Homo sapiens: one gene and its partner. The protein of the gene in region 1 interacts with the protein of each later gene in a biochemical or structural test. Each region holds a gene or a part of one and is shown on either strand. Other genes may lie near its edges.

Region 1 (3,654 bases):
GCATGATACTGTCCAAATGCCATGATAAAGGAGGAATTAGAAAACAAATTAGGGAAATACGTTAACCAGATAAATCAACTCTTTAAAAACAAGGCTAAAGATGAAAGTAAAATCATAAAAGACAGACAACCGGGTAATAAGCATTTAAAATACTTGCTCTTGTTGGCCAGGTGCAGTGGATCACACCTGTAATCCCAGCACTTTGGGAGGCCAAGGCGGGTGGATCACCTCAGGTCAGAAGTTCAAGACCAGCCTGGCCAACGTAACGAAACCCCATCTCTACTAAAAATACAAAATTAGCCCGGTGTGGTGGCACATGCCTGTAGCCTCAGCTACTCGGGAGGCTGAGAGAGGAGAACTGCTTGAACCCGGGGAAGTGGAGGCCGCAGTGAGCCGAGACAGCGCCACCGCCCTCCATCCTGGGCGACAGAACAAGACTCTGTCCCCCCCCTCCAAAAAAAAACAAATAAAATCGAATAAAATAAAATACTTGCTCCTGTTACTAATTTTAAAAATAAAAATTTAAGCAAGATACAAGTTTTCATCTAAAAATCACAGAGATCTGTTTTCAATAGCACCCAGTAAAGGCAAAAAGTAATGAGATATGACAAGCATTCTCTCACTTTGCTTGTGGAATTTAAACTGGCACTAAAATAATTTGGCAATATGTTATCAAGAGTCTAAAACGTTCTTTTTACTTGATCCAATAATTCTACTCATAGGACTTTGTACAAACAAATAATAAAACATGAACAAACACTCAATCCTTATTTCAAAGTGAACGTAATAAAGAGATAAAATGCAATACTCCACTTGCTTGGATCACCAGTTTTGCTAAAACATAAATAAAGCAAAAAGCAAAAAATTGAAAAAAAAAAAAAAATAGCCACATTGCCTGCCACTAGTCAGGCCATACTAACCCCACTAACTAGCTCTACCCCTCAAAACCTTCCGATTTAACCAAGACAGGCTGCAGTACAATCCTGTAAGACAGGTAAAAAAGCACACTGATATGTTTAAGTGTTTTCACATGACTGAAAATAAAAAGGGTTTTCCCAAGAAAGAAAAGAAAGCAATCTTCCACATCAACTATGAAATGTTACTTCCCAATTTATTTCATAAAGAAATTCAAATATATTTGTAAATAACTTCATTAGGCAGTAAGAATTATAACACAGCAATGCAAAAATTTGTTAGTCACATTGTAAGCAATTGATGGGCATTAAATAAAAGCTAAAAAACTGCATGTCAAACTCCCTGTGCCACTTTAGAAATAAAATTAAATATAAAAGGTTTATTTCTTAGAAAATCAGTTTAAAAGCTACATTAAATGGAAAGTAAGTCCCTTTATAAAAATATGAAAAGTATCAAAATACAAAATCAGGATCAATAAATAAGATTTGTATCTATTCCCATTCACACGGAAGCAATCTGATTTCTACACCATAAGAATGCTTGAGTAAGTTCTAGCCAGAGCAACTAAGCAAGAAAAAGAAATAAAAGGCATACAAACAGAAAAGAAAGAAGTAAAATTATTCCTGTTCACAGATGGTAGGCTCTTATATACAGTAAACCTTAAAGATTTCACACAAAAAACCTGTTAGAATAAATGAATTCAGTAAAGTAGCAGAATACAAAGTCAACACGCAAAAATCAATTGCATTTTTATAAACTAATAATAAATATGATGAAAAGGAAATTATGTAGTTTTTACAATAGTATCAAAAAGAAAAAATATTTCAAAATTAACCACGAAAATGAAAACCTGTACAATAACAACTATAAAACATTGCTGAAAGATATTAAAGAACACATAAATAAATAGAAACACAGCTCATGTTCATGTACTGGAAGACTTAATTTTTTTTTTCCCCATCAGCCTATGTGGGAAAAGAAAGACTTAATATTGCTAAGATATCAATACTACCCAAACAAATTTACAGATTCACTACAATTCCTCTCAAAATCCCAATTTTTTTTTTTTATCAGAAATAGAAAAACTCATTCTAAAATTCACGTGGAATCTCAAGGGCCCCAAATAGCCAAAACAATCTTACAAAATAATTAAAGCTGGAGAATTCACTCTTCCTGATTCCAAGACATATTACATAGCTACGGTAATCAAAACTGTGATACTGGCATAAAGACAGACATCTAGACCAATGGAATAAATCAACAGTCACAACCTTTTTGGCCAGGACCAGTTTCATGGCAGACAATTTTCCCACAGGCCAGGGGAATGGTTTCTGGATGAAACTGTTCCACCTCAGATCATCAGGCATTAGATTCTCGTAAGGAGCATGCAATCTAGATCCCTTACATGCACAGTTCACAGTAGGGTTCCTGCACCTATGAGAATCTAATGCCACTGCTGATCTGACAGGAGGTGGAGCTCAGGCTGTAATGCTCGAATTCCTGCTGCTCACCTCCTGCTGCTCACCTCCCGCTGTGCGACCTGGTTTCTAACAGGCTGTGGACTGGTGCTAGTCCACGGCCTGAGGGTTGGAGACCTTGGAACAGAGAACCTGGAAATAAAACCTCACATACATGGTCAAATACTTTTTGACAAGGGTGCTAAGATCATTCAGTGAGGGAAAGGACAGGCTTTTCAACAAATGGTGGGGAAAAACTGGATATCCACAAACAAAAGAACAAAGCTGGACACTCACCTAATACCATATACGAAAATTAACTCAAAAGAGATCAGGCTTAAATGTAAGACCTAAAACTATAAAATTCTTAAAGGAAAACACAGGGCAAAACCTTCACAGCATGAAGTTTAGCAATGATTTCTTGGATATGACACCAAAGGCATAGGCAACAACAACAAAAAATAAACAAATTGGAATTTCATGAAAAAATGTTAAGTTGTACATCAAAAGACACTATCAACAGAGTAAAAAAGGCAAACCACAGAGTGGGAGAAAATATTTGCACATTCATATATCTGATAAGGGATTATATCCAGAATATACAGAGAACTCCTAAAACTCAACAACAATAAAACAAACCAATTCAAAAATGGGCAAGAGACTTGGCTATACATTTCTTGAAAGATACATAAATGGCCAAAAAGCACATGAAAATGCACAATATCACCATCATTACAGACATGCAAATCAAAGCTACAATAAGATACCACCTGACACCCATTATAATGGCCACTATAAAAAAAAAAGGAAAATAAAAGTGTTGTTAAGGATGTGGAGAAACTGGAACCCTTGTGCACTGTTGAAGGGAATGTAAAATGCAGCTGCCACGGAAAACAGTATGGTGATGCCTCAAAATACTAAAAACAGAATGACTATGTGATCCAGCAATTCCACTTGTGGGTATACAGCCAGAAGAATTGAAAAGCAGGGTCTCAAAGAGATACGTGTATACCCGTGTCCACAGAATTATTCGCAATAGCTAAAATGTGGGAGCAACCCAAGTGTCCAATGGATAAGCAAAATGTGGTATCCTATAACACAGAAATATAGAAGTAAAACCAGAAGAAACAGCTAAAATAATTAAGGTTGTTGCCTCTTGAAAGTGAGATTGAGGGATGAGTAGTGGAGTGAGCAAAAGATTACTATTTTTCTTTAAAAATGTATACTATTGTATTATTTAGCCTTTAAAAGGAAAGAAATTCTAACATAAACTACAGCATGC
Region 2 (3,654 bases), on another chromosome or scaffold:
AAAAAATGCCCATTTAAAGACTCCAGTCTGAGCTCGGGGGCTCACACTGTAATTCCAACACTTTAGGAGACCAAGGCAGATCATCTGAGGTCTGGAGTTCAAGATCAGCCTGGCCAATATGGTGAAACCCCGCCTCTACTGAAAATACAAAAATTAGCCGAGTGTGGTGGCATCCGCCTGTAATCCCAGCTATTCGGGAGGCTGAGGCAGGAGGATCGCTTGAACCTGGGAGGCGGAGTTTGCAGTGAGCCAAGATCGTGCCCTAGCACTCCAGCCTGGGTGACAGACCAGATTCAATATCAAAAACAACAACAACAACAACAAAACCGACCTAAAATGCCCCAACCTACACCCTTGAACTTCCTGGAATAGCTTTAAAAAAGCACCGCTTTTTAATTTCCTTTAATACTTACCCAAATCTGTAATTACTTACTGTCTTACTAAAAAACACACTTCAGGAGATATAGGAACCTAGACTGTTTTAGTTACACAGTCTATCCCTTGCACATAGTAGGTGCTGCTCAGTAAGTATCAGTGGCATAAAAGGGATGAAAAACAGTATATAACCATCATCTACTTAAAAACAAAGGCCAAGTATTGTGGCTCACGCCTGTAATCCTAGCACCTTGGGAGACTGAGGTGGAAGATCACCTGAGGTCAGGAGTTCGAGACCAGCCTGTCCAACATGGTGAAACCCCGTCTCTACTAAAAACACAAAAATTGGCTGAGCACAATGGCACACACCTGTAGTCCCAGCTACTCCAGCCGGAGGTTGAGGGGGGAAAATTGCATGAACCCGGGAGGTGGAGGTTGCAATGAGCCGAGATCGTGCCATTGCAAGAGCGAGACTCTTGTCTCAAAAAAAAAAAAAAATTAATTAATTAAATAAATAAAAATACAAAAAATTAGCCAGGCTAGGTGGCAGGCGCTGTAATCCCAGTTATTCAAGAGGCTGAGGCAGGAGAATTGCTTGAACCCAGGAGCAGAGGTTGCAGTGAGCTGAGATCATGCCACTGCACTCCAGCCTGGGCAACAGAGCAAGACTCCATCTCAAAAAAAAAGAAATTAAAAAATTTGCATGGTGGCCAGGTGCAGTGGCTCACGCCTATAATCCCAACATTTTGGAAGGCCAAGGCAGGTGGATTACCTGAGGTCAGGAGTTTCAGAGCAGCCAACCTGATCAACATGGTGAAGCCCCGTCTCTACTAAAAATACAAAATTAGCCAGGCGTGGTGGTGCATGCCTGTAATCCCAGCTACTTGTGAGGCTGAGGCAGGAGAATCACTGGAACCTGGGAGGCGGAGGTTCCAGTAAGCCTAGATTGCGCCATTGCATTCAGCCTCAGTAACAAGAGGAAAACTCCATCTTAAAAAAAAAAAAGAAAAGAAAAGCCAGGCGTAGTGCTTCATGCCTGTAATCCCAGCACTTTGGGAGGCCGAGGTGGCGAGACGGGTGGGTCACCTGAGCTCAGGAGTTCAAGACCAGCCTGGCCAACGTGGTAAAACCCCGTTTCTACGAAAAATAAATTAGCCGAGCACGGTGGTAGGTGCCTATAATCCCACCTACTCAGGAGGCTGAGGCAGGAGAATTGCTTGAACCCGGGAGGTGGAGGTTGCAGTGAGCCGAGATTATGTCACTACACTCCAGTCTGACCGACAAAGCGAGACTCCGTCTCAAAAAAAAAAAAAAAAAAAAAAAGAATCGCCCAGTGGCACAAGCCTATAGTCCCAACTACCTGGGAGCCTGAGGTGGGAGGACTGCTTGAGCCTGGGAGGCAGAGGATGCAGTGAGCCATGATCATAATCCTCCCACTGCACTTCAGCATGGGCAACAGGGCAAAAGCCTGTCTCAAAAAAAAAAAGGCAAAATTTTGCAATTGCAGAAAAGTTAAATAAGATATGCATAAGAATAGTGTTCAAGGCCAGGCACCAGTGGCTCACACCTGTAATCCCAGCACTTTGGGAGGCCGAAGCAGGCGGATCACGAGGTCAAGAGATCGAGATCATCCTGGCCAATATTGTGAAACCCCGTCTCTACAAAAAATACAAAAATTGGCTGGGCACGGTGGCACGCACCTGTAGTCCCAGCTACTTGGGAGGCTGAGGCAGGAGAATCGCTTGAACCCAGGAGGCAGAGGTTGCAGTGAGCCGAGATGGTGCCACTGCACTCCAGCCTGGGCAACAGTGCGAGACTCTCAAAAAAAAAAAAAAAAAAGAAAAGAATACTGTTCAAAACCACCAAACTGAAGCATGATTCTGTTTGTTTGTGGTTTTGAGACAGGGTCTCATTCTGTCACCCACACTGGAGTGCAGCGATGAGATCATGGCTCACTGCAGCCTAGACCTGCCAAGCTCAAGCAATCCTCCCACCTCTGTCACTGAAATAGCCTGGACTACAGGTATGTGCCACCACAACCACCTAATTTTTTTTTAAGAGATGAGGTCTGGGCCAGGCGCAGTGGCTCATGCCTGTAAACCCAGCACTTTGGGAGGCTGAGGCGGGTGGTTCACGAGGTCCTGTAATCCCAGTGACTTGGGAGGCTGAGGCAGAAGAATCGCTTAAAACTGGAAGGCGGAGGATGCAGTGAGCCGAGATTGCGCCACTGCACTCTAGCCTGGGCAATAAGAGCAAAACTCCACCTCAAAACAAAACAAAAAAACCAGATGAGGTCTTACTATGTTGTCCAGACTGGTCTTCCAGCCTTGGCCTCCCAAAGTGCTGGATTACCACGCCCAGCCTATGATTTTCTATTTTGTATGCAGTTTTGCTAAAGAAGTTCTCCAAAAGGATTACCTTTTAAAATTCCCCTGTATCCTGAAGGGGCACTAGTGTTCAAATATAGAAGATGCCAGTTTATAAATTATTTAACACAATTCATAAGTTCATGTAGGGTGATTTCAGCAAAATTCTTCAAATAAGAGTATATGGTATCTTGCTGGGCACAGTGGCTCACGCCTGTAATCCCAGCACTTTGGGAGGATGAGGCAGGTGGATCACCTGAGGTCAGGAGCTCAAGACCAGTCTGACCAATATGGTGAAACCCCATCTTGCTGACAATACAAAAATTAGCTGGGCGTGGTGGCGTGCGCCCGTAGTCCCACCTACTCGGGAGACTGAGACAGGAGAATCGCTTGGTCTCGGGAGGCAGAAGTTGCAGTGAGTCGAGATTGCACTACTGCACTCCATCCTGGACAACAGAGCGAGACTCTGTCTCAAAAAAAAAAAAAAAAAAGGTATCTTTATAAGGAACTACATACAAGAAGGTTTACATATCAATTATGAGCACAGTATTTTCTTATTACATTGTAAATACACTAGGCATAAAAATACTTCAAACATTCTAAAGTTTTTTTTTTTTTTTCCTTTGAAATGCTCTCGCTCTGTCACCCAGGCTAGAGTGCAGTGGTGTGATCTTGGCTCACTGCAGCCTCCACCTCCCAGGTTCAAGGGATTCTCAGCCTCAGCCTCCGGAGTAGGTGGGATTATGCGCGTGTAACACCACGCCCAGCTAATTTTTTTGGATTTTTAGTAGAAATGGGATTTTGCCATGGTGGCCAGGCTGATGTCAACTGCCACCTGCCTCAGTCTCCCAAAGTGCTGGGATTACAGATATGAGCCACTGCATCAGGCCTAAAGGAAGTTTTTATCTTCACT

What was found.
Region 2: the proteins of PIAS2 (region 1) and SUMO2 form a complex in vitro, tested with the Homo sapiens proteins (4 studies listed by BioGRID).

The regions. Positions count from the first base shown.
Region 1 is NC_000018.10:46,886,392-46,890,045, forward strand, and holds part of PIAS2 (E3 SUMO-protein ligase PIAS2), read right to left. Parts: intron 1-3,654. UniProt on the Homo sapiens protein: Functions as an E3-type small ubiquitin-like modifier (SUMO) ligase, stabilizing the interaction between UBE2I and the substrate, and as a SUMO-tethering factor.
Region 2 is NC_000017.11:75,176,314-75,179,967, forward strand, and holds part of SUMO2 (small ubiquitin-related modifier 2 isoform a precursor), read right to left. Parts: intron 1-3,654. UniProt on the Homo sapiens protein: Ubiquitin-like protein that can be covalently attached to proteins as a monomer or as a lysine-linked polymer.